4 separate regions of the Homo sapiens genome follow, and regions 2, 3 and 4 are each reported to be linked to region 1. Evidence: microRNA targets listed by miRTarBase, many of them from high-throughput screens and not tested one by one. Region 1 holds a microRNA gene; each other region holds the end of a gene's coding sequence.
The links. Region 1 holds the annotated microRNA hsa-miR-424-5p (CAGCAGCAAUUCAUGUUUUGAA, at 1,521-1,542, shown strand). A microRNA usually pairs through its seed, bases 2 to 8, with sites in the 3' UTR of a target mRNA and lowers its output. Matches are read on the target gene's strand: a 7mer-m8 pairs with bases 2 to 8, a 7mer-A1 pairs with bases 2 to 7 and ends in A, and an 8mer does both.

Region 1 (6,708 bases):
ATGGCTCGTATATTTGTGTGGAACAAAATGTTGGGAGAAAGTTGTGGAGTTTTACATGATAATTGTACATTTGCTAAACATGTTTTTTTTTTCTTTTTAAGGGCAGTCAACGACATTTTTCTCCATTAATCCCAAAGTCAGTGTAAAAGTTGTTTGTAAATATCATTGCCAAAACAAGATGGAATGTAGAGATACTTGATTGTCGCAATTTAGGGAATGGGGTTATTGTTACTAATGACTTTTTTTTTTTACCATGACATAGTGTATTTGTTACCACTGGATCTCAGTCTGGATGTTATAAATTCGATACTTAATCTTATTAAATACTCTGCACATTTTATTAACTAATAAATAGGACACTTAACATTCATTGTACTGGTTTTGAAAAACCGACTTAATTTGTAAGTGTAACAAGATACTTACAGTTGGATAATTTAAATGTCTATTACTTGTGCTGAAATGTATTTAACTTTCAAAACCATTACAGTTAGTGCTGATTTTGTTGTTTTAACTTTTAGGTTTGTGATTGAGGATTTCAGAGTGGGTTTTTTTTTTAATGCTTAATTGAATATTGTATTCAAACAAAAAGAGGGCATGCATGTGACTTGTTGCTAATATGTGTCCATTTTAAAAAGGAAAAAGTGGTATCTAATGAGTTAATCATTAAGGAGTATGCGCAGTGCCGGCCATTTCAGGACATGAAAGTTTCTGTGGAGCTGCTTGAAACAGGAAGGAGCGACTTGACATCAAGTATTTAAACTTTTTGATTTATGTTTTGATAGATGACATTGATAGGTATAAATTATAAATAAGTTTGAGTAACCAGTTTAATATGTAAACTGGTATTTCATCTACAGAAAGTTCTCTGTCATTGTTTGGAGCTCTTTAAAATAACTCAGCTGGGGTGTTTAAGAATAAAAACACTAGCAGTGAGTTAGGACATCTAATGCTTTTAAAGATAGATGTATATGTCGCAACGATAGTGTAAGAATCAGCTGAAGCTACCGGTGAGGTTTTGGTTATTTTCTTTCAGTCATCTGAGTCCATTTCCAATAAAGGTTGTTTTTTTGTTTCGTTTTTTGTTTTTTTTTAATGGGGACAATGAATGAGACTTGTAATATGCAGCAGGAAGAAGTTTCACCAAGACTTTGAAACTGGCAAGAATGATCCAGATGTCCAATTGCCTCTACTTAACCTTATTCGTCTACCTTCAGAAGTAATTAGATTCTCTTCCACACTAATTCGTATCCCCCATCGCTCTGCTTTTCACCCACTACGTTGTTCCAAGATTCATCCTCAGGGGAAAAAATTGAGAGCCACACTTTCGGCTCCACCTGCAGCTCCTGGAAATCAAATGGTGAAGTTATAAGAAGTACCTTAACTTGGAGTGAAGTGGCCTAGTCATAAGTTTTGCCCTATTCCTTGCCAGGGGGTGGGGCGGGGCTTCCTTCAGTCATCCAGTCTTTATTCACCCGCAGGTACCCCCAGATCGATCCCCCTTCATTGACTCCGAGGGGATACAGCAGCAATTCATGTTTTGAAGTGTTCTAAATGGTTCAAAACGTGAGGCGCTGCTATACCCCCTCGTGGGGAAGGTAGAAGGTGGGGTCTGCCGGACGCGTGTTCCTGCCACCAGGTGCCCGCTCCCCGCGAGGCCGGCTCAGGAGCAGGTAGGTGGGCGGGGGCTCGCGTCTCTGTTTCCGGCGGGTCCTCGCCCTTGTCCACGCAGCAGGGCTGTAGTCCGGGGAGGGCAGTATTCCTGGCTAGGCTGGGGCGCATAGGCGGTGCGAGTCGAGGAGAGACGCGGTGCCCGCGCTCAGCCGTGCCCTAGCAGCGGGAACAGTTCTGCAGTGAGCGATCGGTGCTCTGGGGTATTGTTTCCGCTGCCAGGGTAAGTCTGGGACTGCCGTTCGGGCCTACCCAGCAGGTAAGTCTTAGGCCATCGCCTGCGGTGTCGGCCCCGGGAGCAGCGAGACCCAAGATTGCATCAAACGTTTGCCCCGTCTCTGCATATGTGACTGGACGTGAATGATGCTTCATTTTGGCACCCCCTTTCCCTGCTCAGGTAGAATGTAAACAATTGAAAAAAATCCCTTCCCAATCAGAATACCACCCACAGGACAACGAAGAAAACCTATCTTCAGTCCCCACCCACGAAATGCTGGGGGGTGGGGAGGACTGGAAAAGGAGTAAGGGGAGAGGAAGGGTGAGCAGCTGCAAGAAGTCTTTACACCTCTCTGCGGTTCCTGGTAAACGCGCTCATGTCCTGGGTATGGAAGGGACTTAAGAATTCAGGAAAGATCAAAATAACGGGCCTCTTCCCCACTCCCTCGCCCTCCCTTCCCCGCTGCTGGGGGGTTAGGGAGGCTCCGTGGAGCTCCAGCACTCTAGAAGGATCGGGTGAGGCGCGAGGCCTTGCGGGCGGGTGAACCCAAGGTGGGGTGGAAGGCTCCAACCCGCCCAATCTGAGCCCGAGGCCTGCTGAGAAGCATGGGGGCCTTGGGATAGTTCCAGAATGAGGATGTGCGTTTCTAGCTGCTTTGCGCCCTCCTCCCCCAAAAATCTGCTACCACAATTCCAACCCGGCGGCACGCCCCCAAGACTCCTTTGTCGCCCCAGGGGCGGGACCTGAGCTGTCGATTTCAGGAGCCCTTCGTGACTTCAAAAGTCCTGGGCACTGTTGCTCATGAGTGCTGCACAACTGTCGCCCTCTAAAGCCACCTCCATCCCTCACTGGGCTGGCCTCCTGAGCCTTCGGTGAGGAAACGGGGTTCCGAGTTGCCCGCCTGAGAGCTTAACAGTCTGACTAGAAAAGGGCTAATTCGCTTTCTGTGCAAATCTCTTGAGCTAATTATTTAATCTGAAACATGGACAGGTAAAGGACCATTGGCGGGCGTGGGGAGGGAGGTGTGGAATCTTTCCCACACTTTTTGTCACCTTAAAGAAAAAAAAAAGACACCCAAACTCCTCTGGTCTGAATGGGCTGCCTGGAACTGGGCTTCCCGGGGCCAGGAGTGGGCCCCTAGAAGTTTCCCAGTTTGGGGTGGGGCCGGGGTTCCGAAGTCTAGAGCTGGGAGTCGGGTTCAGCGGCCCGAGACGCTGGCTCTCCCAGACTCCCTTGCGCCGGGGCAGTGCGCGGGGGCGGCTCGGGTCCCTCCCGGGCCGGCGGGGACCCTCAGGCTCCCGGGGCGCCGCCCACCAGCCCGACCCGGCGGCCTAGAAATCCCCATTCTGCTCCCGCCTCGCCCCGGCCGGCCAGCGCAGGGCCCCTCAGGCCCGCAATCTCCAGGCTCAAACGGCGAACAGGTCCCCGCATCCGCCTGCCTTTGCACTTGGGGGTGGGAGAGCCACCTTGTGACGCCCCTTCTGCCTCTCACCAGCTTCCCCCTTTCTCCCCGTCCTGTACGGTTCCCCCTGGAGCCAGAAGGAAGCCCGGTGCCAGCCAGCCTTCCTGAAAGACCAAGCCCGCGCCATCCGGCTTCCTCCAGTGGACGCCTGCAGGACCCAGGTGAGACACGGAACCGGTTGGGGACGCGAGCCAGGGATCCTGACCGGTTGGGGGCGGCGAGCAAGGGATCCTGACTTGGGGGCGTTGCCTCCCGGAATCCAAGCGGCCTTTTGCCCGGGTCTCCCGAGATGCATCGAAATTGAGCTCGTCCACACAGCCCCCTGACTGCGTGATGCCCTTTTCTGACTTAAAACATTCCTTGTACCTTTATTTACACGATCCAAGTTGCAGTGTGCCTAGATTTTCCTCCAAGGACAAAAATGTGAATAAAGCAATATTTTAGCCAAACATTTCTGTGTCAATTAAGAAGATTGCAATTCGTTCCAGACTATAAATTCTCTTTAACAACTCCCTAAGGTATTCTTTTAAATTGTTTTTCAGCGTTGCTAAATGTGCATCATAATGTGTGGGAGACTTGTATAAAGTGAATCAATTTATACTCAGCTGATTAATTGACCCGATGTTACCACCTCCAAGGAGGCACCTTTCCACTATTTTCTCATTTTTTCCCCAACACATGTTATTTGTTAGTGAGGAAGCTGCGTGCACGTGGCATTGTATAAAGTTTATTAGACAGACGTGGCCCTTAAACTAGGAAGAGCTTAGTCTAACTCTAAATCTAAAATTCGACATTTCGGTAAGTTGTGAGACAAGATACCCAGGTTGTTTGATAAACCAGAATTGAACATAATTTTTTAAAAATTTAAATCACAGGAATGTTTTTCTTGAAGGCATCCAGCATCTCCAGTTAGCAGTACTGATTTTTTTTCCCCCCAACAAAGGAACACTACATCAACACTGTTGGCGGGGACCTGGACACAGAAGACTCCTGTTTCAAGAAAATACAATCATCTCTCAAAGGCTGTAATTTATATGCATTTTAAAACTCTAGGCATTGAAAACCACCCAAGTGTCCCAAATAGAAGGGTAATATATAATCAATCACTCAGTGTAATATTATACATCCTTTAAAAATGTTATTGGGAAATGTTTTATGATCTGTAAGTCCAAGGAATCCTCTCCCACCATTTCTTTCCCCCCGCTGTTCCCCCATACCCACACTTCTTTGTTCCAATTGGCATGTAAATTTGGTTTTCCCGCCAAATGAGTCAGTCATGATGGGAACCTCAACTGATTTGAACAGATGTGTGTCAATGTTACTTGGAAAACTAGATGTCAATAACCAGGGTCACAGAAAAAGGCAGTGGTCACAACTCTGTAAAAATGTATGCATGCACACAGACAAGAACTAAAGTGGAACCCCACACAGGAAAACAGTGGGCTGTACTCCAGTGCTGGGACATTGAATGACTGTATGCTGCTTTTGATTTCCGTTAATATGGGCAACTGTCCAATTAAAAAAAAAACTCCTAAGGACTCTGCAGTGCAAATTGTTTTGCTGATTGTTTTAAAACACCATACCTATCAACTCATCAAGGCAAATGGGGCAGCGGGGGACTGGGTTCGTTCCCTGAATCCTGGACTGCTATAGAGCTCAGGGCAACATTTGCAGAAAACCTGAGCCTATGAGATGGGAGTTATAGGCAGCTTTCCTGAGGCTGTGTAAGATGAAAATAAAACTAGGTTCAAAAAATATGTTTGGGGAAGATCAATGAGTTTATCGATAGAAGTTAAAAGACTTGAGTCTGGCTATATGCAAGTTGGCATATGTTTTTAGAGATCTTTTTTCCCATTGGCCTGCAGTATGACTTAATCTCATAACCCTAGAATTTTATATATGCATTTGTATTTAGAGTTATTACATGACTCTTAAGCAAAAAAGAGTATATATACATCAAGTGTAGCAAACGTGTATCTCCCTGCCCCCCTACATCCCACTCAGGCCCACCCATTAGTTACTCCTCAGTGAATAAACAAGGATCGGCTAGCTCTTTCATAATATTTCACCTATCTGCCACCTTTTCCCTCCTCCCCAGCTCCACAGCTGATCTCTTTGGCAAGTTCAGCCAGGCTTAAAACCCCTGTGGGGATAGTAAATTGAGCCAAGAGGGAGGAGCCCCGAAAGACTTCCACTTCCTGTGGTTGCTTGGGCCTTTGAGCACTCCCCCTTCCACTACTGAGCTCTATAATCTGAGCAGTTGGTGGGTGTTTGGAAACATGGCCTTGGCTCCACTGCTGGAGTCAGGGAGCTCAGAACACTGCAGCAACCTGCCAGTGAGAGTCTGGGTTGCTTTGAAGCCTGAGTCTCCCAAGGCAGCTCCCTCACCTGTTCCCCCATGTCCACCCCCACCTGCCATCCAGACAAGACTATTACCCTAAGACCAGACCTTCTAAAGGCGTGGCCACAGAATCATCAGTATCCCAACATCTTGCCTTTGTATCGTGTGTTTACATACTTTTCCAAATACTTTGTTTTTTCTTTTTTTTCTTTTTTTAATTTGTGACAACCTTGAAAGACAAACAGAGTTAAGGCAGTCCAAAAAATAATTACAGACAAGAAAACTGGGGCCTCTGGAGGTTAAGGATTTGTCTGAGGCTACTCTCTGGGGGCTCTTCCTCCAGGCCTCATACTGTGTTCCTTATGTCATTACCTGTTCATCAGAACCGACTATGCAGTAGTGACCAGAGCAGGAAATGGAGGTGAATGTGTTTGGTTACAAAAATTCCCGGTGAAACTGGCTAGTCTTATGATGAGCTTTGGCCTATACATTGGACACTTCCTGGGTGAGGCCCAAGATTGGCCCCAGGATTACTAAATAGTGACTATAAGTTACCCAGCCGTGTACAAGTCAATCTGCACAAACCAAAAAAGCATGATTTAAATTCATTTTAAACCTCTGTCCCATGTTTGTTATTTTCTGTAGATTCAATCAAATTATCTTAAGGAAACAAATGAAGTGTCAAGCTATAGGGGTTGACTTAATCTAGTCACTCACTCAATGGAACCTTTTTCAGCCATTGCAAATAATAATGATAGAGAATATACAGAAACCTGGAAAATGCTTATGATATCAACTTAAAAAAAATCAGGGCCACAAAATCACATGGACACCATGATTGAAAAATAGGAGCAGAACCTGGAGGAAACCTGCAAAACAGACATACTTGTTACTTAAGGGTGGTGGGATTAGAGCTGAAGTTTCTTCTTTCTCTACTTTTTCATGGTTTTGTGTGTGTGTGTGTGTGTGTGTGTGTGTGTGTGTGTGTGTGTGTGTGAGATGCCACGTTTTCTTGTTATG
Region 2 (8,112 bases), not on the chromosome of region 1:
GCTTTGGTTTTGGGGGGGCCTGGCTGGGACCCAAGATGAGAGGATGGGGTGTGGATGCAGTTGAGGGGCCGGGGCAGCCTGTGTCCCCTTTTTGGAGGGCTCTCTTCCAGCCAGGAGATGTGCGTGGAAGGCTGGGGGGTGGTGGCTTGGGGGTGCATGACTTCCCCTCCGGGGCCCATATTCCTATTGGATCCCCTTCCTCCTTCCTGTCTCAGGTGTGAGCAAAGCCTTGGGGAGGGGGCTGCCATGGACGGGGGGGTGGGGCAGGAGAATCCCAAAGCCACACCAGCAGACATGTGAGGCACTGCTTGGGAAAAGTCTGTTTTGGTATCACTGGCAACAAGTCCTGCTGGTACTGCTTTGGGTCCGCCTCCTCACCTTGCCCTGCCGGGAGGTCAAGGGTGGTGGACTGACCCCACACTCTGTACCATTGAGCAATGGATGGGCAGCGGTGTCATTTTGAAGGTGAGACTCTCAGGAAGTGTCTGACGTGGCAGAAATGGGGCAAGATGGGAGGATGCGGAGGAAGCTGGATTGAGAGATGTATGTCCCAGCGCCCTCCAAAGAGAAAGTAAAATCCGGGGTCTCAGAGAGAGAATCCAGACCAAGATACAAGGTAGCCACTATATATTCTGTATTATGAGAAACAAATTCCAAAATTATATATATATATATATATATATATATATATGTATAGTATAGCCCTACACTGGAGGTCAAAGTACCATTGGGGAGGCCAGAGTGGGTAGGGGGGCTGCTTGCTGTCTCTTCTGGAGGGCTGGACAGTTGCTCCTGGCTCCAGAACCTGTCTTGCAAGGGACAGTGGGGTGCAGCCAAGTCTGTCTGTGCCTGGAATGCTGCTGTCTCTCAAGGTCCTGGGGCAGGGAAGGTGGAATTGTCTGCTGCCTGGGGACCTGCAGGGGGACCCAGGTCTGGCCCCTAAGCGGCTCTCCCAACCGAGTCCCCTTTGGCATTCCTTTGGGATCTGATTGTCCAGCCCAGGGTGGGGCCCTGGGGTCAGAACCTGGGTTCCAGACCTGGGCATGAAGGACTCCAGATCCTCCTCTCCCCAGTCAAATAGGGCTGGGTCTTCCTACTCCTCCATGCCCCATCTCCACCCGGGTCATTGTCAGGTGCCCCCACGGAATGGGGACAATTTGCATATATTTGGGAGGCCTCCCTATTCTTTCCCACAGCATGGGCAGACCCCAGAATGAGACTGGGGTGGGGGGGGGGGCCTGGCATAGGTGTGGTGTCCATAGCAGGGGTGGGTGATGGGGGCTTCCAGAGGGGGGTGGAACAAGATTTGAGAAGATGTCAGTTTCATACATGTTAAAAAAACAAAAACAAAAAACCAACACTCCCTCCTCCACCCAGGGATGACGGCACCCCCTTTTGTGAACCCAAACTGCAGAGATGGGCACGGAATCCTGCTTCCTGGTGTTTTTGTCTTACTCTGTCTGCAGCAAGGCGCCTGGGAATTTTGCCCTACAGGGACCCTGTAGCTTTTCCAAGAAACAGGGAGGCGGGGAGAACTAAACCATCCACAACATGCTGCCTGGTATGGGCTTTTGCCTGCTGTACTCAGCCAAGGTGCCAAGTGAGCCAAGGAGGCAAGCTCGGGGTGAGAAGGGTGGCGTCCAGCCCAGGACTCTGGGCCCCCGGGTGTGGGCTGTGCAGGGACGCGATGGTCCCAATAGTGATGGGGCCACCCACTCCCTTTGCCTCCGGTTGCTCCTAGTTCCTTGGCAAGACAGATTTGCTCAGGAGTGGGGCAGAAAAAAAAAAAAAGCTAGAAATCAGCTACATGAATGCTGTGCACAGCCAGCCCGGGCTCTCTGGCCAATGCATATTACTTAAGGGCAATGTCGTGGCCAGCTGTGGTGGTCTGGGCTCTCCCTCTGTATCGCCTGGGGAGGCTGCTGAGGTGACTTTTTGGAAGAAAACACGGGATGAGTGTATGATGGTGGCTGTGGAGACCACCCAAAATCCCGGGGTTGGGGGCAATAGTGAATGAATGGGACCATCTGCGTGGGTCCCTACACGAGATGCTTGGAGGGGCTGGAGGTGGTGAGGGCTGCAGGAATGGCCTAAGGTTGGAGAATCCCAGCCCTGGGTCCTCCCTGCCTGGCTGCCCCACTAACCATCTGGCTATTGTCTTAGCTTTGGTCAAGTAAAAAGCAAAGGAAGCTGGAGTTAAAAACAAAAAGAAAAGAAAAAAAAAAAGAACAAAAGAAAATAAAATCAAGGACAAGACAACAGCATGCTCAGCCACCGGACCACAGCCTGTGACTCGGTGCCACCTGGCTGTCCCTGTGCCCTGCCGGACCCTCGGCTGGGCCTCCAATGGCTGAGCCAGGCCCATGGGTACAGACAGACAGACAGATATTGCATATATCAGGTTTTGTTTTTGTTTCATACAGGATACCCTTCATATTCACAGCTGGAAGACAGAGACAGGGGATGGGGGACAAAGGAGAAGGTGGGAGAGAATGCCACCTGGGGTGGTCTCTGGATAGGGGAAAAGAGGTCCTTTGGCAAGAAGGGTGGGGATGCACGGGGCAGGGGAGAGGGGGTGCCTCTGAGGTGGGTGTGGAACAGCATTTGACCCTGAGCCAGGGGTATGCCAGCCTGCATGAAAAGTGGGGAGCGGGGAGTCTGGCTGCGGGTGGAGTGGCCACCCCATGGTTGGAGGACAGCCTGCAGTGGGTCGGTGAATGGTGTCTGGGGGCCGGCCCGTGGCCTAGGGACCAATCAGAGAGGAGAGCCCTTTCCCAGGGCCAAGATGGGCCCCGGAGGTCTGTCCTCTGGGCAAGGGATTCAGAAATGACCCCTCTGGGTACCCAAGAGCAGGGTTGGGGGTGGTAGAGGCTGAGCACCAGGGGGCACCCCTGAATACAGCAGGAGGGGAGACAGGACCAAGGACAGCCAGGGGCTGGGTAGACCTGGGGGCAATTGTTTTCAGTGGCTTGATTTTTAGCGTGGTTTTTCTTCCTTTTTTTTTTTTTTTTTTTTTTTTAGATTCTCACTTTCTTATTTTTTATTTTATTTTTTTTACAAATAGAAATACATCCCTTTTCAATTTTTATTTTTTATTTCATGTCACTGTTTTGTCTTTTTTTTTTTAAACTACACGAGCAGAACATGCAGCTATGTGTGTGCGCTGATATTGTTTAAAGGTAATACTTATTCTCGGAAGGCAAGGCACATCTTGTGGTAGAAAATTTCGTGCAAATTAGGAAACATGGAATTTTTTTAAAGGTTTTTCTTGTATCTTTTTTTTTTTTTTTTTTTTTTTAAAGAGGAAGTGGGGGGTGGAGGGGGCGAGGAACAGGGAGATAGAGCCAGGGATAGTCTGCCATGCATGTGTGTCAGCGCCGCCAGCTGACCTCGGGAGCCAGGTCGCAGGAGTCCTTGACTAAGCACCATGCAAAGTTAGGTAAAGAGTTGGTTCTCGTCGCGCCCTGACCCCTCTGGAGCCCGGCTGGCCTCCCTCCCCCACTCCACGACCCCCACCCTGGCTGAGAAGCTTCCGGACACCCCAATGGCACAACCCGACCACCCCCTCCCCCGCCCGCCCTCCCGGAGAGCGGCCCACGCTTTGATCCCCAAGGGCCACCGGGGGAGCGGGCCCCGAGGACAGACGGACGGAGGGACCAAGGGCTCGAGGCCAGAGGATGGCGAACCTCTCTTGGGGGTGATGGGGGAGGGTCCTGGGTCTTTCTCTTTAGGAGCGAGCGGGTTCGCCAAGCTCCTGAGGCTAGTTTGGGAGGAGAGTCTGGTTTTCGGGGGCAGGGGGGTGAGGCTAGGAGCAGGTGAGACCCGGAGACCTGCCCTGGCTTTGGCCTGGGTCGGGGGAGGGGGCAGTGGTGGGGGGAGTTTTTCCCTAGGCATGGAGGTCAGTTGGGGCTGGGCTGGGTGGGCCGGGGAGGGGTCCTTGTGTTTGAGCTCGGTGGCCCTAAAACACCTAACACCCCCTCCCAGGCCTCCCCTAAAGATGGCGATCCTGGGGTGGGGGTGGAGGTGTGGATAGGGCCAGGGAGCCGGGGTGGGGGGGCACCTGGCGTCCCCAGCTTAGTGTTTTTGGAGCGGCTCAACGGAAAAACGCTTAGCAGATGGGAGGCCCCCTACACGGCTGCGGGGGGCCCCAAGGTGCGACGCCGAACCCCCCGAAAACCCTCCCCGTTCCGAGCGGGGACCGCTGGCGTCGGCCTCCTCTCTCCTCTGGGGGCCCAGCCGTGATGCACGTCCCGCAGCTGGGCCCCGCGTCGGGGTAGGCGATGAAAGTGCAAACGGCGGTCCCCCTTCGCTGGGAGGCACCAGGGAGGGGGGTCGCTCCAGAATGTAAGGCACTGGCAGCGGAGGCGTGGGGGGCGCACCGGCTTCCCCAGAGCCCACCCCCGCGCCCCGGCAGGGCAGGACGCTTGCGAAGTGACGCCCAGCTCTGCCCCTCGGGCCACGCAGGGGCCCCATCTCTCTAGCTCTGGGGGGGCACGGCGATGAGGGTTGACTGGAGGGGCTGGTGGAGAGGCTGGAGGGGAGGGGGAGGAGGCCCGCGGCCATTCCGTGTCCCAGCTGGACAAAGGGGGGGGCGGGTGGTGGTAATCAGGCACTTAAACCACTCGCTCTCACCTCCCACCGCCAGGGGCTGACGGGGGCGCTCCAGACGGGCACCCCCAACTCGGGGAGCTCTGGGTGTCCGGGCTCCCCCATCCCCTTCCTCGGAAAGTGCATTTCTTACAGTGTGTGCAATGTGGGTCCCTCCCTTTGGGGGTGTGAGCCGGGCGAGGTGGGGGGGCCTCCTATGCCGGGGGTGGGGGGTGGAGGGGCCGGGGCCAATTGCATAGAGACTTCTCCTCCCAAACGGGCGGGCGCGAGGGCTGAAAGAGTCCCCAGCGAGACAGCGAGTCGGCCGGCGCTTTGGGAGGGGCTTGTGGGGAGGCCCCGCGGCAGGCAGGGCCCCCTCGAGGGGCAGCAGGTGCCTGGGCCTCACTTCCTCCCCTGGCCAGGGCTCGCAAGCGCCACGCACCCCCGCGACACCACTCGCCTGCCCCACCCTGCCCGCCTCTGCGGTCTCCGCTGCCCGGCCGGGGTCCGCTGTGTCTCCCTTTCCCCCCAGTGGCTGCGTCCTCGGTGGGGGCTGAGGGGCCGGTCCGTGTCCGGCAGAGGCGCGGGGGCCCGGGGAGAGGTGGCCTTGCTGGGTGTCGCGCCTGTCGGCCCTGGGCACAGGCTCCAGGCTGTGCTCACCTGGTCTCCGGACAGAGCCAGGGCCTCCGGGGCGCGGGCGGGCGGCCGGCGTCTGTCCTTCCCGAGCAGCAGGCGGAGAGGAGATGAATAACTTAGGAAGACGCCCTGTCCCGGGTCTCCCGTGGGGGTGGCGGGGCCTGGCCCTCCAGTCCTGCGGCCTTGGCGTCCCGAGAGTTGGAAACGTTGCGTCTTTACCTTTTGTCTTCTTGCTTGGGTGGGTTTTTATTTCTTCTTCTTCTTCTTCTGCCTTTGTTTTTTCTTTTCCTCCTGAGTGTGTGCGTCTATGTGTTTTGTCTTTTTGGCCGGGCTGGGAGTCGGCAGGGGTGTTCTTGTTCACTCTAATTTTCCACCGAAAACGTGGGCCGGGGGCCGGCTGTGCTGCCCCCTGGGATTCCTGGGACGATGGAGAAGGGGCGAGGGAAGAAGACCTTTGCTATCCCAGATACCAGGACTGAGTGGCCCAGTGGCGACAGAAAGAGGGAGAGAGAAAAAGGGAGAGAAGTCGAGGGGTCAGACTCTGCTGCAGACATGGTTTACCTCTTCCCACGCTCACCCCCCACCTCCTGCAACCCTGTGACCTCAGTTTCCCCATCCCAGGCTCTAACAACCTGCTGGGTGACCCATGGCAAGTGACTTTGTCTCTGAGGGAGGCTTCCAGACACAGTACAGGATGCCCAGTGAAACTGGAGTTCTGGTTAACACAGAATTCTTTTAGTATAAGTCTAGCCCACGCAACATTGGGGATATACTTACACACCACACACAAAAGATCCATTTATCTGGAACTGTATTTTATATTTTATTTATTATTTTATTTTTTGAGATGGAGTTTCGCTCTTGTTGCCCAGGCTGGAGTGCAATGGCGTGATATTGGCTCACTACAACCTCTGCCTCCTGGGTTCAAGCAATTCTCCTACCTCAGCCTCCCGAGTAGCTGGGATTACAGGCGTCCACCGCCACACCTGGATAATTTTTGTATTTTTAGTAGAGATGGGGTTTCACCATGTTGGCCAGGCTGGTCTCAAACGCCTGACCTCAAGTGATCCACCTTCCTCGGCCTCCCAAAGTGCTGGAATTACAGGTGTGAGCCAGCACTCCCAGTCTGGAACTCAATCTTACTTTATTATATTATATTATTTATTTATTTATTGAGACAGAGTCTCGCTCTGTTGCCAGGCTGGAGTGCAGTGGCATGATCTCGGCTCATTGCAACCTCTGCCTCCCAGGTTCAAGTGATTCTCCTGCCTCAGCCTCCCGAGTAGCTGGGATTACAGGCGCATGCCACCACACTCAGCTAATTTTTATATTTTTAGTAGAGACAGGGTTTCACCATGTTGGCCAGGATGGTCTCACTCTCTTGACCTCGTGATCCGCCCGCCTCGGCCTCCCAAAGTGCTGGGATTACAGGCGTGAGCCACTCTGCCTGGCCTTTATTTTATATTTTAAAAATTATTTTCTTCTCTATTTATTATTTATTTATGAGACAGAGTCTTGCTCTGTTGCCCAGGCTGGAATGCAGTGGTGTGATCTTGGCTCTCTACAACCTCCGCTTCCTGGGTTCAAGTGATCCTTGTGCCTTAGCCTCCCAAGTAGCTGGGATTACAGGCCCGCCCCACCACACCCAGCTAATTTTTGTATTCTTAGTAGAGACCGGGTTTCGCCATGTTGGCCGGGCTGGTCTTGAATTCCTGGCCTCAAGTGATCCGCCCACCTTGGCCTCCCAAAGTGCTGGGATTACAGGCGTGAGCCACTGTGGCCAGCCAATTTATTATTTTATTTTGAGACAGGGTCTTGCTCCGTTGCCCAGGCTGGAGTGCAGTGGTGCCATCATAGCTCACTGCAGCCTCCATCTCCTGGGCTCAAGTGATCCTCCCACCTCAGCCTCCCGAGTAGCTGGGACCACAGGTATGTTCCACCACATCTGACTAGTTTTTTTTTTTTTTTTGTAGAGGTGGGGTTTCGCCATGTAGACCAGGCTGGCCTTGAACTCCTTCCTCCCAAAGTGCTAGGATTACAGACATGAGCCACCACATCAGCTGCCTTGTTCACTTTATAAAGAGGTTTTTTGTTGATTTTTTGAGACAGCGTCACGCTCTTGTCACCAGGCTGGAGTGCAGTGGCACGATCTTGGCTCACTGCAACCTCTGCCTCCCGGGTTCAAGTGATTTTCTTGCCTCAGCCTCCCGAGTAGCTAGGATTACACGCATGCGCCATCACACCCAGCTAATTTTTGTATTTTTGGTAGAAACGGGGTTTCTCCATGTTGGCCAGGCTGGTCTCAAACTCCTGACCTCAGCTTATTCGTTTGCTTTGGCCTCCCAAAGTGCTGGGATTATAGGCATGAGCCACTGCACATGGCCTTGAGAATGTTTTTAAAAAGTAAACAAGAGGCTGGGCTCGGTGGCTCATGCCTGTAATCCCAGTACTTTGGGAGACCAAGGTGGGTGGATCACCTGAGGTCAGGGGTTCGAGACCAGCCTGGCCAACATGGTGAAACCCTGTCTCTACTAAAAATACAAAAATTAGCCAGGCGTGGTGGCACGTGCCTGTAATCCCAGCTACTCGGGAGGCTGAGGCAGCAGAATCGTCTGAATCCAGGGGGCGGAGGTTGTAGTCAGCCAAGATCGTGCCATTGCACTCCAGCCTGGGCAGCATAAGACTCCGTCTCAAAACAAAAACCAAAAAAACCAAAAAAAAACAAAAAAAAATTCTCCTCTTTAATGATGTCCCCGGTATCCCCGTGAAGGAGGGGGTAGGTCTCCCTCCACCGCTGTTTTGTGTGAAGAAAGTGAGGCCCAGAGAAGTCAAGGAACTTGCCCGAGGTCACCAGCATGGAAGCGGCAGAGGTGGAACTTGAACTCAGGC
Region 3 (8,112 bases), not on the chromosome of region 1:
CAAGAGGGGTAGCATGTGCAAAGGCCCTGAGGTGGGAAAGATACTGGAATGAGGGAGCTTTGAAAGGCGGCCAGTGTCAGGAGAGTGGTGAGTAAGGGGGATAGTTGTACTAGATTAAGGTTGGAGAAATCGGCAGGGGCACTCCCCAAATAAACTGCAGAAGATGAATGAAGGAGATTCTAGTGGCCAGTTCTTTCAGTTCTTTTACCAATGGTTTAGAATCCATTTTTTATCAGTTATGTATAGCCTATTGTTTTGAAATACAATAAAAGAGAACAAAACATTGAAAGAAATGTTAATTTGGTTGATACAATTAGAATTCAAAGAGCAAAGTATAGTGGATCAGCACTTAGGCTCTGGCCTCAGACCAGTGTTTGAAAACTAGGTCTAACATTCTCTATGGCCTTAGACAAGTTATCTAACCCCTCTAAGCCAGGTAACAAAGACAATATAAGGGCTGGCACAGTGGCTGACACCTGTAATCCCAGCACTTTGGGAGGCCAAAGTGGGCGGGTCACCTGAGGTCAGGAGTTCAAGACCAGCCTGGCCAACATAGAGAAACCCCATTTCTACTAAAAATACGAAAATTAGTCGGGCGTGGTGGCGCACACCTGCAATCCCAGCTACTCGGGAGGCTGAGGCACGAGAATTGCTTGAACCCGGGAGGCAAAGGTTGCAGTGAGCCGAGATCATGCCACTGCGCTCCAGTGTGGGTGACAGAGGGAGACTCTGTCTCCAAAAAAAAAAACAAAAATAAAAATAAATTTTAAAAAAATTCAAAGCAGTTTTCATACTTAGTAAAATTGAGAAATGAGAAAAACTACAATTATAATAGTGTTTTGGGGATTAAATTCAGTAACTCTCTCTTAAGATTTAAGATTGTGCCACTTTTTCTCAGCACTTTTGTCAAGTAAAAGTTTTTTTGATGTTGCTTTTTTTTTATGTTCCTATTTTCTCACGTAAGCATAGTTAGCAGTGATAGTTTTCCTTATTTGATCAAATCTTATATTTTTTGCATTAAAATGTGCCTTTTAAAAAGTTATCCATAATTAAAATGTTATCCATAGAAAAGTCATCCTATTTTCTCCATGTAAGCAGTTAGTAGTGATGAAGTTTTCCTTATTTGATCAAATATTTATTTTTTGCATTAAAATGTATTCTAAAATGTTATCCATAATTGGATATCCATAATATCCAATATACATGTTTTACTTTACTGTAAGTTTACGATTTACTTTACTGTTGGCTTATGATTTGCTTAAATTTGGAGAAACTATGACATATTTAACTAGAAGTCTCCTAGGCATGCGAACTGCTTGTTTTTCCTTACTGAAAATTATGCTGATTTTTCTTCTGCATGTGCTCCTGTTTGATTCCAGTGCTAGCGACCTGATCTAGGCAAATTTCACAGGACTTCCTAACTCCAATCCCTCTTGGTTATACGCTATCTTACACCTGCTGCCATAATTTCTAATTCTTCCTTGCTGCAGAGCCTAGATAATTTCACACTGTTCAGTCCAGTGTATGCTACAATCACCTGATTCCTCCACCTCAATCCTGCTCCTCTTCTGTTGCTACCTGCCACTCTACTTCTGCACCTGGCCTCTCCATCATCTTCTGCTAAATGAAATTCTCATTCTCGTGATAAAAGAAACCCAATACCTTCCCAATCAACCCTACTCCACTTGGGTCACTTTTCTGTTTTTTCCTTATCACCAGTGAAACCAGTTTTTACTTAATTACTTTATTTCCACATATTCTCATAACTATACATTTACATAATTGCCTACATCCCCACCAGTTTATAAACTTAGTCAACTAAGGGTCTTAATCTTCTACTGAAATCCTATTTCAAAAAAACCCTTCAGTAACTGACTCAAGATGTACAACTTTATCTTTCATGTGATTTTTTTTAACTGTCAAAAATACATGAAAAAATATGAAAGAGAATGTACCAAATATTAATAGCAGTTACCTCTGGAAAATTTCAAAACGGGAGTTGGAAAGGGCAGGGGTAGTGTTGGTGGTAGTAATGTACCTCAATATATACCCATTACCTAAAACTGTGACTGGCACATGGGTCTTCAAATTAATATTTGTGGAATGAATGGTCAGAGTCTAAATATTCAGTCAACAGTATGAACATTTTTTCGTAGGTTCTTTTATAATCTTTAGTACTTCTTGAATATTCCATAATGAACTTTGATTTATCATATAAAAACTCAAACTAAAAAAGATACACAAGCAAATTTGACATGGAAAGCATGACAACCAAATTTGATGTGGGTAGTATGAAGATTCAGCGCAAGGTTTGATTCCAGTATCTTAAAAGTTTTTGGAAGACAAGTCCTCTATCGAAAGCAGATGGCTTTTAAAAACAACTAATGATACAGAATCTTGAACTGACAAACTAAGAGAAATGTTGTCGTAATTATTTCCTCCAAAGAAATTCTTAATCCCATGCAAAATCCCTAGCTGTTGCATACTGTTCTGTGGCTTCAAATACTATCAATACAGTGACTCCCCATTTCATTTTTAGTATTTTTTTAGAGGAAGGAACTGGCTCTGTCTCAAGTGATCCTCCTGCCTCAGCCTCTCAAGTAGCTGAGACTACAGGCGCATGCCAACCCACCCAGCTAATTTTTATTTTGTAGAGATGGGGTCTTGCTACATTGCCCCAGCTGGTCTCAAAATCCGGGGCTCAAGTGATTCTTCTGCCTTGGCCTCCCAAAAGTGCTGGGGTTACAGGTGTGAGCCACCATGCCTGGCCTAGTGATTCCACATTTTAATTTTCTCCCCTTAACACTACACTCATATATCCAACTGCCTACTATGCAATGTCTCTGTTAGAATTATTAATAGGAATCTCAAAACTCAATCACCCTTCTCACACCAAAAACTGGAGTCATCTTTTGATCTTTTTCTTCTTGTTCACATCTAATCCATCGCCAAGTCTTATCAGCTTTACCACTAAAACATACCCCAATTCTGACTTCTCCCCATGACTATCACCCTAGTCCAAGGTCCCACCATCTCTCACCTGGATGACTGTAAAAGTCTTCCTTACCTTGTTCCACTAGTCTTTTCTCCACTGACCAGAGAAATTTACAACACACCACACATCTCCTTTGCTTAAAACTCTCCAATGGCTTCCCATCACACTCAAAACAACATCTTAAATCCCTCACTATAGGCTTATAGCCCTAAATGGTCAGGCCCTTGCCAATCTCTAAAACCTCATCACCTACTATTCTCCACACTCAATGGACTTACCTTACTGGCATTCTTTCTTTCTCAGCGAGTAATTCCATATGTGCTTTGGGGACTAGTTTTATTGTTCTCTTCATCTCGAACGTTTGTTCTTTGGTCTTGGTCTAATTTTCTTATATCATTCAAGGTTACGACCCTATAAAATTGTGCCCCAGTCCCTCCACCACCATGTTCTGCCTCATTTTACTCATAGCTTCGGAAATTACCATTTCATTGCTGTCTTATCTACTAGAATTCAATAAACTCTGGAAGGCAGTAAAGCTTTGTCTTATACCCCAATGTACACCCATTACTGAAAATAGTGAGTGGCACACGGGTCTTCAATAAATATTTGTTGACTGCATGGCTGAAGAGAGTCTCAATGTTCAATCAAGCGTCCAGGGCATGAAAACAAAACAGTTGCTCCAACTCATCTATACTTTGCAATAGCAACCTCTCCTCCCGTCCCCCACAAATAACCAGCTACCTCCCACAAAAATTCCACCCCAAACCTCTTTAGAATATACTATTTTAAAAGCCTATGTTCTGGATCAGCTGTTGCAAAATTATAAAACAAAACCAGAGCCTCAAAAATATGTAGCTTGTATGCACACGGGCCAAGCAGCATTGCCCTCTTTCGAAACTTTCTCACCCTTGAGTCAGCCCTTGCTATGCATTTCTATCTAATTTCATCAAAGTAAAACTGTATGTGCTGGGGTACAGGTAAGCAAACAAACTGGTGCTATTTGCTCTATGTTAACACTCTCAAAGACAGACCTGGCTCTGCATCCTTCTTAGGAGGGTCCTATGGCCAGGCGCGGTGGCTCATGCCTGTAATCCTAGCACTTTGGGAGGCTGTGGGTGGATCACCTGCGGTCAGGAGTTCGAGACCAGCCTGGCTGACATGGTGAAACCCCGTCACTACTAAAAATACAAAAATTAGCCGGGCGTGGTGGTGGGCGCCTGTAATCCCAGCTACTCAGGAGGCTGAGGCAGGAGAATCACTTGAACCTGGGAGGCAGAGGTTGCAGTAAGCCAAGATCGGGCCACTGCACTCCAGCCTGGGTGACAAGAGTGAGACTCTTGTCGCAAAAACAAAACAAAACAAAAAAAAAAACAAAAAAAAAGGAGGGTCCTGATTCACTCACAGGCTCTTTGGCTCTACCAAAAAGCAGTATTTGCTATAAAAATAAGAGATCTAAGACCAGTCTCAATAAAACTCACCAAATTAGTGTTCAGTGCCAGAGAGAAAAGCAAGCTTTGAAATAAACATAAATAGCAACCAGATCAAAATGTGAAATAAAAAAATTCTTAAGCTTTCGATTTTGTCAAATGAAGCTTAAAATTCAAGTATCAGTTCTTACGGTTCTAGCCATTATAAATCTTACGTAAACATAAGAGCTAAAAACAGCCTGGTGTGTGGAGAATGATTATTTGGGCTCAAGTTTTGTCTAAGAAACATAAATTTAATTATAACTCTTAGTAACTATTTAATCCAAGCTGTTTTTCTTCAAATATTTTGTACTGTGTTTAGCCAGAAAACAAAATACAGATGAACTCTTTCTCTTTGTAAGGTGACTGTATTATAAACAAGGCTAAAGTAGCAAGGCTAAACTTTTAGTGCAGATAATAAAATTCGAATAGTACAAGAATACTCTTTAGGTAATATCTATAGAATAAGATCTCTAAATGTTTTTGTATCAGGTGGAAATGCCATCTAAAGTAATATTAACAACATAAATGTATATATGTGCATACATAAATATATAATACACACTTATATGTATGCGGAAGGGAGAGGTGTGTGTGTGTGTGTAAGGGAATGAAGAAAATGAATGAGAATGGGTACAAATCAAAGCAACCTTTTCTTGGGTTAATTATTTCAACTATAAAGATGTATCTCAACTTCTAAAGAAATTCCTGGTTTGTATTTAAATGCACTTTAAAAAGACCGTTAACACTCAAATTTAGTTGACAGGCTACAATGGGATTCAGAAAAGGACACAGTGAATATAGACTTAGGTGCAAGTTCATGCTGGTGATTTTTCTTTTTTAAAATGTAAGCCACTAATATTTTAAGACAAAAATTTAAACCAAAAATTGCATATTAATATTATACACAAACTGAAACATGTGACTTTTAGCACAGTGTATACATGCTTACATAAACTCAAACACATTTAAAACAATTTCCATTTAACATATGAAAGTTTTGAAATACATAAAAGCATTAATACTTTCTATAAAACTACAGTTAGAACATCAATTTGCTACAAGCATATAAAAACATCAAGTGCTTTCTTGGAGTTTCAAGTTTCCTCTCTAAAACACAATCTTGCTCACATATATAGTCCTTTTCCAATAATCAGTATGAACTTTTCTTTTTCTCAAGAGGTTTATTTTCCAGGTACATTATAAGCTCAAGAAAAAAGACCCAACAATTAGGCAATATAATTATGTCATAACAACTTAATTGCACATAATGCTTTAAAGTAGGTTTGGATGAAGTTCTCAAACACTTTGGTATATGATCTTCAGGGACTTTAATTAGAAACAACAGAAATTATAAGTCCCTTCAATCCCCATTTTGCTTTAAAAGGGACAAGTCTTTGGTTAAAGTTCTACATTTTGGGCATTTATTTTTAATTAAGATGGTCCCCAAACCAATAAATGGTACTGATCTATTACAAATTCACAAGACTTCATTTAACCTGCTTCTGATGCAGTGGGAGGTTACAGATACTCATTTACTATAATATGTCATTGGATAGTTTCAATCTTTCATTTATAAGCAGAGAAATCAATAGGTTTATTACTTCTCTGTCAGTTTTCTGTTATAACCTAAACTGTACAGTAATTTGCAGTAACTACAGATACTGTTCCACAGTATATATAATTATGACTGATAAGATGTAGAGCATTAAATTTAGAGTTAGCTTATTCTGATAAGTCAATATTAGACTGTTCATTAACTCTGCATTAACTATAGAAAGGTTGTTAGTTAATGCTTATTTAAAAACCCCAAACCATTCCATTTACAAGAGAAATTGTTGCAAATGTATAAAACAGCAGATATACAAGGAGAACACCAAACATACTTTATTAGCACAAAAAAAGCAGCCATAACAAGGCACAGCAAGCAGAAACATACATTAGCAGTCAAAAGGTTAGTGTTGCATACAAATATAGCTTTCCTTTTTTGTAGCCTTGGCAATAGCCATAGGGATGTAAAATAACATTCTGTAGCAGCAGGTAAGGAAACTATGGAGCACTCACCAGTGGTACAGAGCACATTAACGAAAAGACATGAGAGTGGATTCGGCTACTTTAGTGCAAAATGTCTAGGACAGAACTGTAAATTCAGTTCAGTTACTAAGAAGCAAACACTAGAACTTGATATAACTTCCAAAAGCGCTCACTCAAGTAGTAGTACATATTATTCTAAGTGACAAAAAGGTGCTAAGTTATTTACAGATATAATGGTTGTACAGTACCTTTTAAATCTGCAATTTAGGTTTCAGATTTTCCATTAAGAATGAACTGCACTGAAATTCTATAAATTATACTTAAGCAATTCAGTTATGAGAGTTTACAAAAAAGAGATAAATTCTGCCATCCAAATTATTAATTATAGTTCAACAATAATCTCAACATCAGCAACCATTGTAGTTACTATTATCTGACTTGTTTGGGCGTCTTCTAGTCTCACGTACTTCACGGTTCACAAAATCATCCTGGGCATAGGAACAGATCCAACTTTTATGAAACAACAATTAGACTGCACATCAACTTAAAAAAAAATCACACACAAGACTACATTGCAGCAGCTATTCCAAACGCCTGTTTTAAGTTAAAGCACTCATTTAAAAAATTAATACCTAGGCCTTTCAATAAAATTCTACTACTAGCTTTGTAAGTCTGAAATTTTAAGAATGCCTATTTAGAAAATCTGGTTTACTTAACAGTACCTTTTGCAGAAGAGAAAAGGCGTCTGATTATAAACTACATCAACACGTAAGTGAACTGCACTATGCCCTTGTGGCCAGAAAATTGCATTTTTTTCTAAAAGGAAGGCAGTCTTTTATTCTTTTTGGACTTCCAAAGCTTGATTTATAGTAACTACAAACATCACGACTTTTGGAAGGTTATAGAAAAACTCTTAGAAAAAATAATTTCAAACATTAGTCACACTGTTGAAATACTCATCCAATATTAATAATTTGTTCTTCAGTAAGAAATAGAATTCTTCATAACAAATGCCCCAGAGTTGCCTCACTCAAATACCACAGCCATTAAAAACCAAACTGTTAGCGAAATAGGCAAAATGTTTTTGTAGTCTTACTGAACACCTGTAGCTCTATCCGCTATTGTTCCAATAGGCACCATGTTTATCTGAATAAGTAACAGCAGGTAGCATCTGACAGATACTAACACTAAGCTTACATACTGTATGAAAAAGCCTAACACTGCTACGTGTGCTTGCTATAGGTGTACTGTCTGATGCACATGAAAGCGGACCTAGTTAACAACCTTTGGGGACCGGAGAGTTTACTTTGCCTTGACTGGTTCTCGTTCCAACCAGCGAACTCTAACTTTTTGTTTATAATGATACTCTTTTAAAAAATCCTGTAACATTGAGGGTAGAGGGAGCCCATCAATTCCATCATACGTAGTGCACCTGCAGATTACCGCGCGACAGATATACTGCAGGCTAAAAGGGAAAGTCCTATTTAGTGATATAGTAAGCAATGGTTCAAAAAACATGCACGAACTGGGATCTTTATAATGTTCTAAAAGTCCCGTTACAGTGGAGGAGTGAAATACACACGGGTCATGGGCGTCGAAACTAAAGTTGTGATTCCA
Region 4 (7,325 bases), not on the chromosome of region 1:
CAAAAAGGTGCTCAGAAATTTGTTGTGGATTCAGAGTGACTTTCCTAGGGTCACACCATTGGCAGCACCAGAATTTGAACCCAGTCTGTCTGATGTCAGGGCCTGAGCTTCCACCTTACCTGCTATTTTTCATTCTAGGATCTTGTGCTGTGAAGACATTTCCCAAGTGCTTCATGTTAGCCAGCAAATCTGACCCACAAGGCCTGGAAAGAGGTGATTGTTAGGTTGCGCAGAGGTGGTCTTATCCAGCTCAGCTTCCCCTGGGACCCACCGTGGGACCTGAGGCAGAACTGGGGTGGACTTGGCCTCCTCCATGGCACACCGGCTGCAGATACGACTGCTGACGTGGGATGTGAAGGACACGCTGCTCAGGCTCCGCCACCCCTTAGGGGAGGCCTATGCCACCAAGGCCCGGGCCCATGGGCTGGAGGTGGAGCCCTCAGCCCTGGAACAAGGCTTCAGGCAGGCATACAGGGCTCAGAGCCACAGCTTCCCCAACTACGGCCTGAGCCACGGCCTAACCTCCCGCCAGTGGTGGCTGGATGTGGTCCTGCAGACCTTCCACCTGGCGGGTGTCCAGGATGCTCAGGCTGTAGCCCCCATCGCTGAACAGCTTTATAAAGACTTCAGCCACCCCTGCACCTGGCAGGTGTTGGATGGGGCTGAGGACACCCTGAGGGAGTGCCGCACACGGGGTCTGAGACTGGCAGTGATCTCCAACTTTGACCGACGGCTAGAGGGCATCCTGGGGGGCCTTGGCCTGCGTGAACACTTCGACTTTGTGCTGACCTCCGAGGCTGCTGGCTGGCCCAAGCCGGACCCCCGCATTTTCCAGGAGGCCTTGCGGCTTGCTCATATGGAACCAGTAGTGGCAGCCCATGTTGGGGATAATTACCTCTGCGATTACCAGGGGCCTCGGGCTGTGGGCATGCACAGCTTCCTGGTGGTTGGCCCACAGGCACTGGACCCCGTGGTCAGGGATTCTGTACCTAAAGAACACATCCTCCCCTCTCTGGCCCATCTCCTGCCTGCCCTTGACTGCCTAGAGGGCTCAACTCCAGGGCTTTGAGGCCAGTGAGGGAAGTGGCTGGGCCCTAGGCCATGGAGAAAACCTTAAACAAACCCTGGAGACAGGGAGCCCCTTCTTTCTCCACAGCTCTGGACCTTTCCCCCTCTCCCTGCGGCCTTTGTCACCTACTGTGATAATAAAGCAGTGAGTGCTGAGCTCTCACCCTTCCCCCACTAACCAGCTCCTAGCCTCTGCCCTCCCTCATTCTCATTCACACCTGTGTCCCTTTTCCACTAGGAGTCGACTTCACATCCAAAGGATTCACAGAGGGCCCCACTAGCTTCAAAACCAGGCACTTTCAAACTTGGTTTTAGCAGCAGAGTCCTTTAGTTATGGGCGATCTGAAACCCCATTATGCAAAACTAAAAACAGACCCTGAAAAACTGCTGGAGTTGAAGCAGAGGTGCTAAGGTCTCTCTTTCAGCTTCTGAAAATACCCTCTGGAAGCCTGGGGTCAGTGCTTAGTTTGAAAAGCAGGATGCTAAGCCATTCTGTAGGGACACTGTCCATTAGCACCACATAGTATGAAGGGGAGAATTTAAACAAGGAACCCCATGACAGTCATGAGAAGAAATCCTGTTGACATATGCCTGCCCCGTGTTAGGTAAGGTGCTGAGTTACCTCCATGCACATATAACCCTCAAAGCTACCTCGTTGGGCCTAGGTGGTTTGACCCCCTCCACAACTTTACAAATGAGGAAACTGAAATTCAGAGGTTAAGCAGCCTGCCCGAGGTCACAGCTAGCATGCAAAGACACCAGGATTCCATTTAGGCACATCTGAATCCAAAGCCCATTGGCTTGACCACTAGGTTGTAAGTAGATGAGGATGCTTGTCATGTGAAACGTGGTACAGTGGAGATTCTGGGAGAATAGGGGAGGTGTCCTAAAGAATATCAATCTCAAAGGGCACCCCAGTCGCAGAGACCAGTGTGGAGGTAGGAAAGTATGGGGAACAAGGACTGCAGTGTAGGGAATAGGTTTGGAGGGAGGGGGGAAGAACTGGAGGTTGAAGTAGGTTGGGTTTTTCAATTCCTTTTTTCACTTTAGGAGGCTGAGGCAGGAGGATCACTTGAGCCCAGAGTTCGAGACTAGCCTGGGCAACATGGTGAAACCCCATCTCTTCAAAAAATGTAAAAACTAGCCTGGTGTGCTGGCACACACATTTAATCCCAGCCACTCGGAAGACTGAGGCAGGAGGATCGCTTGAGCCCACAAGTTCTGTTACAGTAAGCTACGTGCCACTGCACTTCAGCCTGGGCAACAGAGTGAAACCCTGTCTCTAAAAACAAAACAACAAAAAGTTCTCCTGCCTCCCCACCTTCCCACACCGTTCTACTTGGTATTTGCTGGACATCTGTGTTCCTTGCCCAGTGCCAGAGGATACCACACATTAAAAACACAGGCTGGCAGTGTGTTCTGGTGCCAGCAGCTAGGGAGGGCTCTAGAATGGATGCTGAATTCAGTAGTGGCATTGGGGGTGGCTTTAGATGAGCAGGGGGATGAGGAGGACATTGCTGCAGCAGGCCGATGAACTGTGGAATGAAGGCTGCTGTGAGGAGCTGGGTTGGTGGATTGGGAGAAAATGGCATGGGGGCCTTCAGGTGCCAAGAAAAGCCTTGGCTTTGACCCAGATTTTTGAGCAGGGGCTGTGCCCAGGCAAAGGCAGGGAAGATCTCTTTGGGACTTGACCAAACCCCTTTTGGTCTGTTTTCCTTGGGACTGGCACCAAGGCCAGGCAACAGTAATTTCGTTGTTTTTTTTTTTTTTGAGATGGAGTCTCGCTCTGTTGCCCAGGCTAGAGTGCAGTGTTGCGATCTCGGCTCACTGCAACCTCCGCCTCCCAGGTTCAAGCAATTCTCCTGCCTCAGTATCCCGAGTGGCTGAGATCACAGGTGTGCACCATTATGCCCAGCTAATTTTTTGTATTTTTAGTAGAGATGGGGTTTCACCACATTGGCCAGGCTGGTCTCAAACTCCTGACCTCAGGTGATCCACCTGCCTCAGCATCCCTTTGAGACTCTGTCTCAAAAAAAAAATTAATAAACAGTGGTTTTCAAACTGCTCTGCAGCTCCCAAAGAAAGTGGGGAGGGCTCTGCCTTTCATCTTCTTTGGACGCAGGAGCCTAAAGTTGTAGGTAAGATTACTTTTGAAGAGAGTTCCTGGACAAAAGTTTGAAGACCACTGTTCTAGGGTGAACTCCTCATGGAGACAAACATAAAGGGACTTGCCTTGGGTCTTGGTAATGTCTCCAGGCTCTTTCCGCTACACTGAGCTGCGACCCACTTATTTCCGAGAATGCAATAAGGGTATGAAGACAGGCCAGCGTACAGTATACACCCAATTATCAACAAAGAACATGGAATAAATCTTCAATGCTTTTAAGACCTTTAATAATGCCCACGTGCCCTAAGGTTGGCCCTCTTAACTCCCTCAGCTCTTTCTGGCTTTAAGCCATCACCCCAGGTGTGCAGTTTATGTCAGAGGGGGCCATCAGGTAGGGAAACTTATCAGCTGCTCTAAGAGAAAAGGCCGTCCCTGCTATTATCAGTGGGCACAGGCTGGAGCTCAGCCAGCAGGGGCTACAGTCGGGTTACCTGGAGACATGATCCCCTGGTCCTCTGAGGGCCTAGGCAGGACATGGGGGAGGACACGGTCCCCCGGGACAGAGTCCTCTGGCCAGGAGCAGCCTTTCAGGTTGCTCTTGTGTGCTAGAAAAAAATATTTTCTCTATGTGCCATGTCATGAAAAAGACAAAAGCACTGAGTTAATGGGATGTGGAAACTTTAGCCACAGGCTTCTCTGCCTGTGAAGAGAGCATTTCTGCATGTGAACAGCTGGAGCAGGAGGCTGAATGGCAGTGCTTCTCCAGAGACCACAACATCCACCCAGTCACCTGTCCACCTACATTCACCTATCCATCTATCCATCCACTCACCTGCCAAATATTTATTGCATGCTCACTATGCACCAGGCACCATGCTAGATGCCAGAGACAAAGTGAAGACACCCTCAGAGGGGCAGATGCATGGTGGATTTGGGAGACTAAGGCCCAGGGAGTAGTAGGTTCCCCACAGGTACCCAGCACTCAAAGCAGCAATCTCCAACCCTTTGAATGCAAGGACTTTTTTGCTTATCTGTGGTGGCAGATATCACAAAAATTATACACAGACTTTTTTTTTTTTTTTAGCTCATCAGCTATCGTTAGTGTATTTTATGTGGCCCAAGAAAATTCTTCTTCAAATGTGGCCCAGGGAAGCCAAAAGTTTGGACACCTGTGATTTACAGGTTATGCCTAGATCTGAAACAGATCCCCATCCCTCCTAAAGCTGCCCACTGGTTATGGGCCCTGTTTCTCTTAGAAACACCACACACATCATTTGGGAAAAGCACACTGAGTAGAAACATGGCCTGAAAGGGTGGTGGGCGGTGGACCTGGCTTCCTGTGGCCAGAGGTCAGCGGACGATAGAAATGGTCTGATCGGCCACAGCAAAGACTGGGAAGAGGGGCCCCGGGAAGGACACATGATGGGCACAGAGCACTGTGCCGGAGGCTGGCTCATAGAAGAGCAGCTCCTGAACCTGCAAGTCCAGCACTACACCCAGCTGGGCTGGGCCCCGCAGCAGCCCCAGGGGCTCGTGCTGCCCATTGTGTGAGAAACGAAACTCCTGATCATAGCGAGAGAAGACCCAGGAGAAGGCATTGTGGCCCAGACGGCAGTCACTGCCAGAACCCTTGCGGGGCAGGTGGCCTGAAGCCACGCCCACCTTATAGGCACAACTGTTCTGGACATTCACCATCCAGGCATGGAGCCCATTCTGGAAGGAGGTGGCAGCCAGGGCATTGGGCCAGTGGTCGAAGCGCTCCGGGCCATCTGCACAGGCCTTTGACTTCTTGGTGCTGAAGGTCAGGGTCTTTCGATCATCTGACAATTGCAGGAAGGGGCTGACTGTCCTCTCATCGATCCGTATGTCCTCTGTGCCTGCCAGAAAGAATTCTCAGAGTTGCCGAGGGCCCACCCCTGCCCTAACCTGGTCCTGCCAGGTAGCAAAAGGTTCCTCACCACTCACTAGCATGGTGACCTCATATAAGCCATTTACTCTCTCTGAGCCTTGTCTGCAAAACGGGGGTCAAAATAGGACTTCTCACTGGGTGATCACGAGAATTAAACAGAATCATACATGTAAAGTGCCCAGCATGTAAGTGCTCTATAAACTGTAGCCTTCATAACAATAGTTACTATCAGTCAAGACCCTCAACTGTAAACTCTGATAGAAATAAGGCCCAGAGAGAAAAAGGGAGTTGCCCAAGTTTACACACTGACTTGGTGGGAGGGGCAAAATGAAGACAAAACATTTTGTTCCTATACGTAGCACTGATTATACTCTTTCTACTTGGTCATATCTGTGGCCTCCAGATTGGACGTGTCCTAGAAACACAGCCTCTGGGAGCTAGGAAGCATGAGATAAGCAATTTCTAGCAAATATCTAAACTGCTGGTAAATCAGGCATCATTTGATACCAGAATCTAGAGTAGAGAAGCTACAGCTTCTACCAAAATTGTAAGGATAATACGAGGAGGGAGGATTAAAACTGAAAAAAAAAAAAAATCAGTCTATTAACCTAACTGTTCCACGAATTGTGAAAGACTACCATTGGGAGAATGGAAGCTTCCATCTAACTTGGAGGAGGCCTGCTCTGGAGAACCTCTGTGCTAAATGGGAATTCCTGGAGGCAGAAGACCATGTCAGTTTACCTCTGTGGCCCCAGCATGTGGCACAGGGTGGGGCCCACAGTTGGCCTGAGTCAGTGTGTGTAAAGTGAATAAGTGAGGCAAATCAGGCAGTTTGATTCTTGGTCCAGATGTTCTTCAGTTGGCCATCAATTTTATCTTCTTAAAGAGAAACCCCAGGTTTCCAATAAATAATACTGGGCTGCCCTAGTAGGTCAGGATATAAGGAAGACATGACTTATAGGAATGAGATTTATCTTTGACCCAACCACAGAACATGTTAGTCCGGAAATGGGAAGGACTTGGCCCAGCTGCCCCAGGCCTGTCTGGAACCTTGACCCTACTGACCAGCCTGCATCCAGCATGACTTGTTTAAGCTATCATCTCAGAAGCACGGGTCCCCATTGTGAACCAGGAGTGAACCCCAGACAGACAGACAGAAGCCCAGTTGTCCTAATGGTCCTGGGCTCTACTGCTCCTAACCTGAGAGAGACCCAAGAACCGCCGTTGCCCAGAGTTGGGTCAGTAGTGGGCTCCGAGTGCACTTCTCATTAAAGTTTAACATTTCCGACTCCTGGGGATCCAAAATGCCCTCTGCTTCTTCGGTCCTTATATGGGGAAAAACAGAGACAGAGATTCAGGATGGTTCTGGAAATATATCTGGATCAATATGGGGTGAAGAGAAGAACAGAAGTAAAATCTCCTATCAGGCGATACCAAGATTGGCAGCTAGGGCCAGGTGCAGTGGCTCACCCCTGTGACCCTAGCACTTTGGAAGGCCTGATGTGGGAGAGGATCACTTGAGCCCAGGAGTTTGAGACCAGCATGGGCAACATAATAAGACTCCATCTCTACAAAAAATTTAAAAATTAGCTGGGTGTGGTGGCATGCACCTGTAGTCCCAGCTACCTGGGAGGCTGAGGTGGGAAGATTGCTTAAGCCCAGGAGTTCGAGGCTGCAGTGAGCCAAGATCATGCCACTGCACTCCAGCCTGGGTGACAGAGTGAGACCCTGTCTCAAAAAAAAAAAAAAGAGTGGCATCCAGGCCCCACACAGGTGCTTGGGCCAAAAGGGAAGGTGGCCATTTCCCCTGTGCCCCCCAGAAGCCTTAATTTTAGCAAAGCTGGTGGACAGTTTATAGGAAGATGTGTTCTTGGTGCCAGTATTAGAAATTGAAGGTGGTGTGCTCTGCAGAGGAAGCAACTTGCCAGAGTCCCTCAGTAAGTTAATGGCAGAGCTGGGGCTAAGACCTCCTGGGCCTCTGGAACCCCTGCACGATAGTCTTTCTACTCCAACATCTTGCCCTTGCCTGGAAAATATCTCACCTCCCTCTCAGACCTGTTGGGGCAGTCATGTTTCCCTGGGTTTTGTCAGAAGGTACAGCCACTCCTCTACTTTAAAAATGCAAACACCTGAGGGGTCCACAGAGGAAAGGGCCATCAGTTATCACCCCAGCCACAAATGAATCATGGCACTGTGTGCTCTCAATAACTCTCCCCTCAGCTCACAATGGGGGCTGGGTTT

Region 2: the mRNA of NFIC is a reported target of hsa-miR-424-5p. Seed matches in the 3' UTR shown: 7mer-m8 at 5,312-5,318.
Region 3: the mRNA of SOCS5 is a reported target of hsa-miR-424-5p. Seed matches in the 3' UTR shown: 8mer at 6,493-6,500.
Region 4: the mRNA of BSPRY is a reported target of hsa-miR-424-5p. Seed matches in the 3' UTR shown: 7mer-m8 at 4,162-4,168.

What each region holds. Positions count from the first base shown.
Region 1 is chrX:134,541,514-134,548,221 of GRCh38, reverse strand. MIR424 (microRNA 424) reads left to right here and starts at 1,511; the gene lies at 1,511-1,608. MIR503HG (MIR503 host gene) reads left to right here and starts at 1,592. Exons shown (of 3, transcript NR_024607.1): 1 at 1,592-1,670; 2 at 3,425-3,508; 3 at 4,223-4,845. It overlaps MIR503 (microRNA 503), which reads left to right and starts at 1,824; the gene lies at 1,824-1,894.
Region 2 is chr19:3,460,338-3,468,449 of GRCh38, reverse strand. It overlaps NFIC (nuclear factor I C), which reads right to left. Exons shown (of 11, transcript NM_001245002.2): 11 at 1-5,698. The coding sequence ends at 5,681. Among named protein-coding and RNA genes, the nearest start is that of SMIM24, 16 kb to the left of the region's middle. RefSeq lists silencers at 385-679, 4,188-4,388 and enhancers at 2,257-2,757, 2,758-3,258, 4,840-5,375, 5,376-5,911.
Region 3 is chr2:46,759,827-46,767,938 of GRCh38, reverse strand. It overlaps SOCS5 (suppressor of cytokine signaling 5), which reads right to left. Exons shown (of 2, transcript NM_144949.3): 2 at 4,810-8,112. The coding sequence ends at 7,798. Among named protein-coding and RNA genes, the nearest start is that of LINC01118, 53 kb to the left of the region's middle.
Region 4 is chr9:113,367,343-113,374,667 of GRCh38, reverse strand. BSPRY (B-box and SPRY domain containing) reads right to left here. Exons shown (of 6, transcript NM_017688.3): 5 at 6,285-6,409; 6 at 3,446-5,052. The coding sequence ends at 4,526. It overlaps HDHD3 (haloacid dehalogenase like hydrolase domain containing 3), which reads left to right. Exons shown (of 3, transcript NM_001304509.2): 3 at 139-1,246. The coding sequence starts at 314. The coding sequence ends at 1,069. Among named protein-coding and RNA genes, the nearest start is that of HDHD3, 6.0 kb to the left of the region's middle. RefSeq lists enhancers at 4,249-4,749, 4,750-5,250.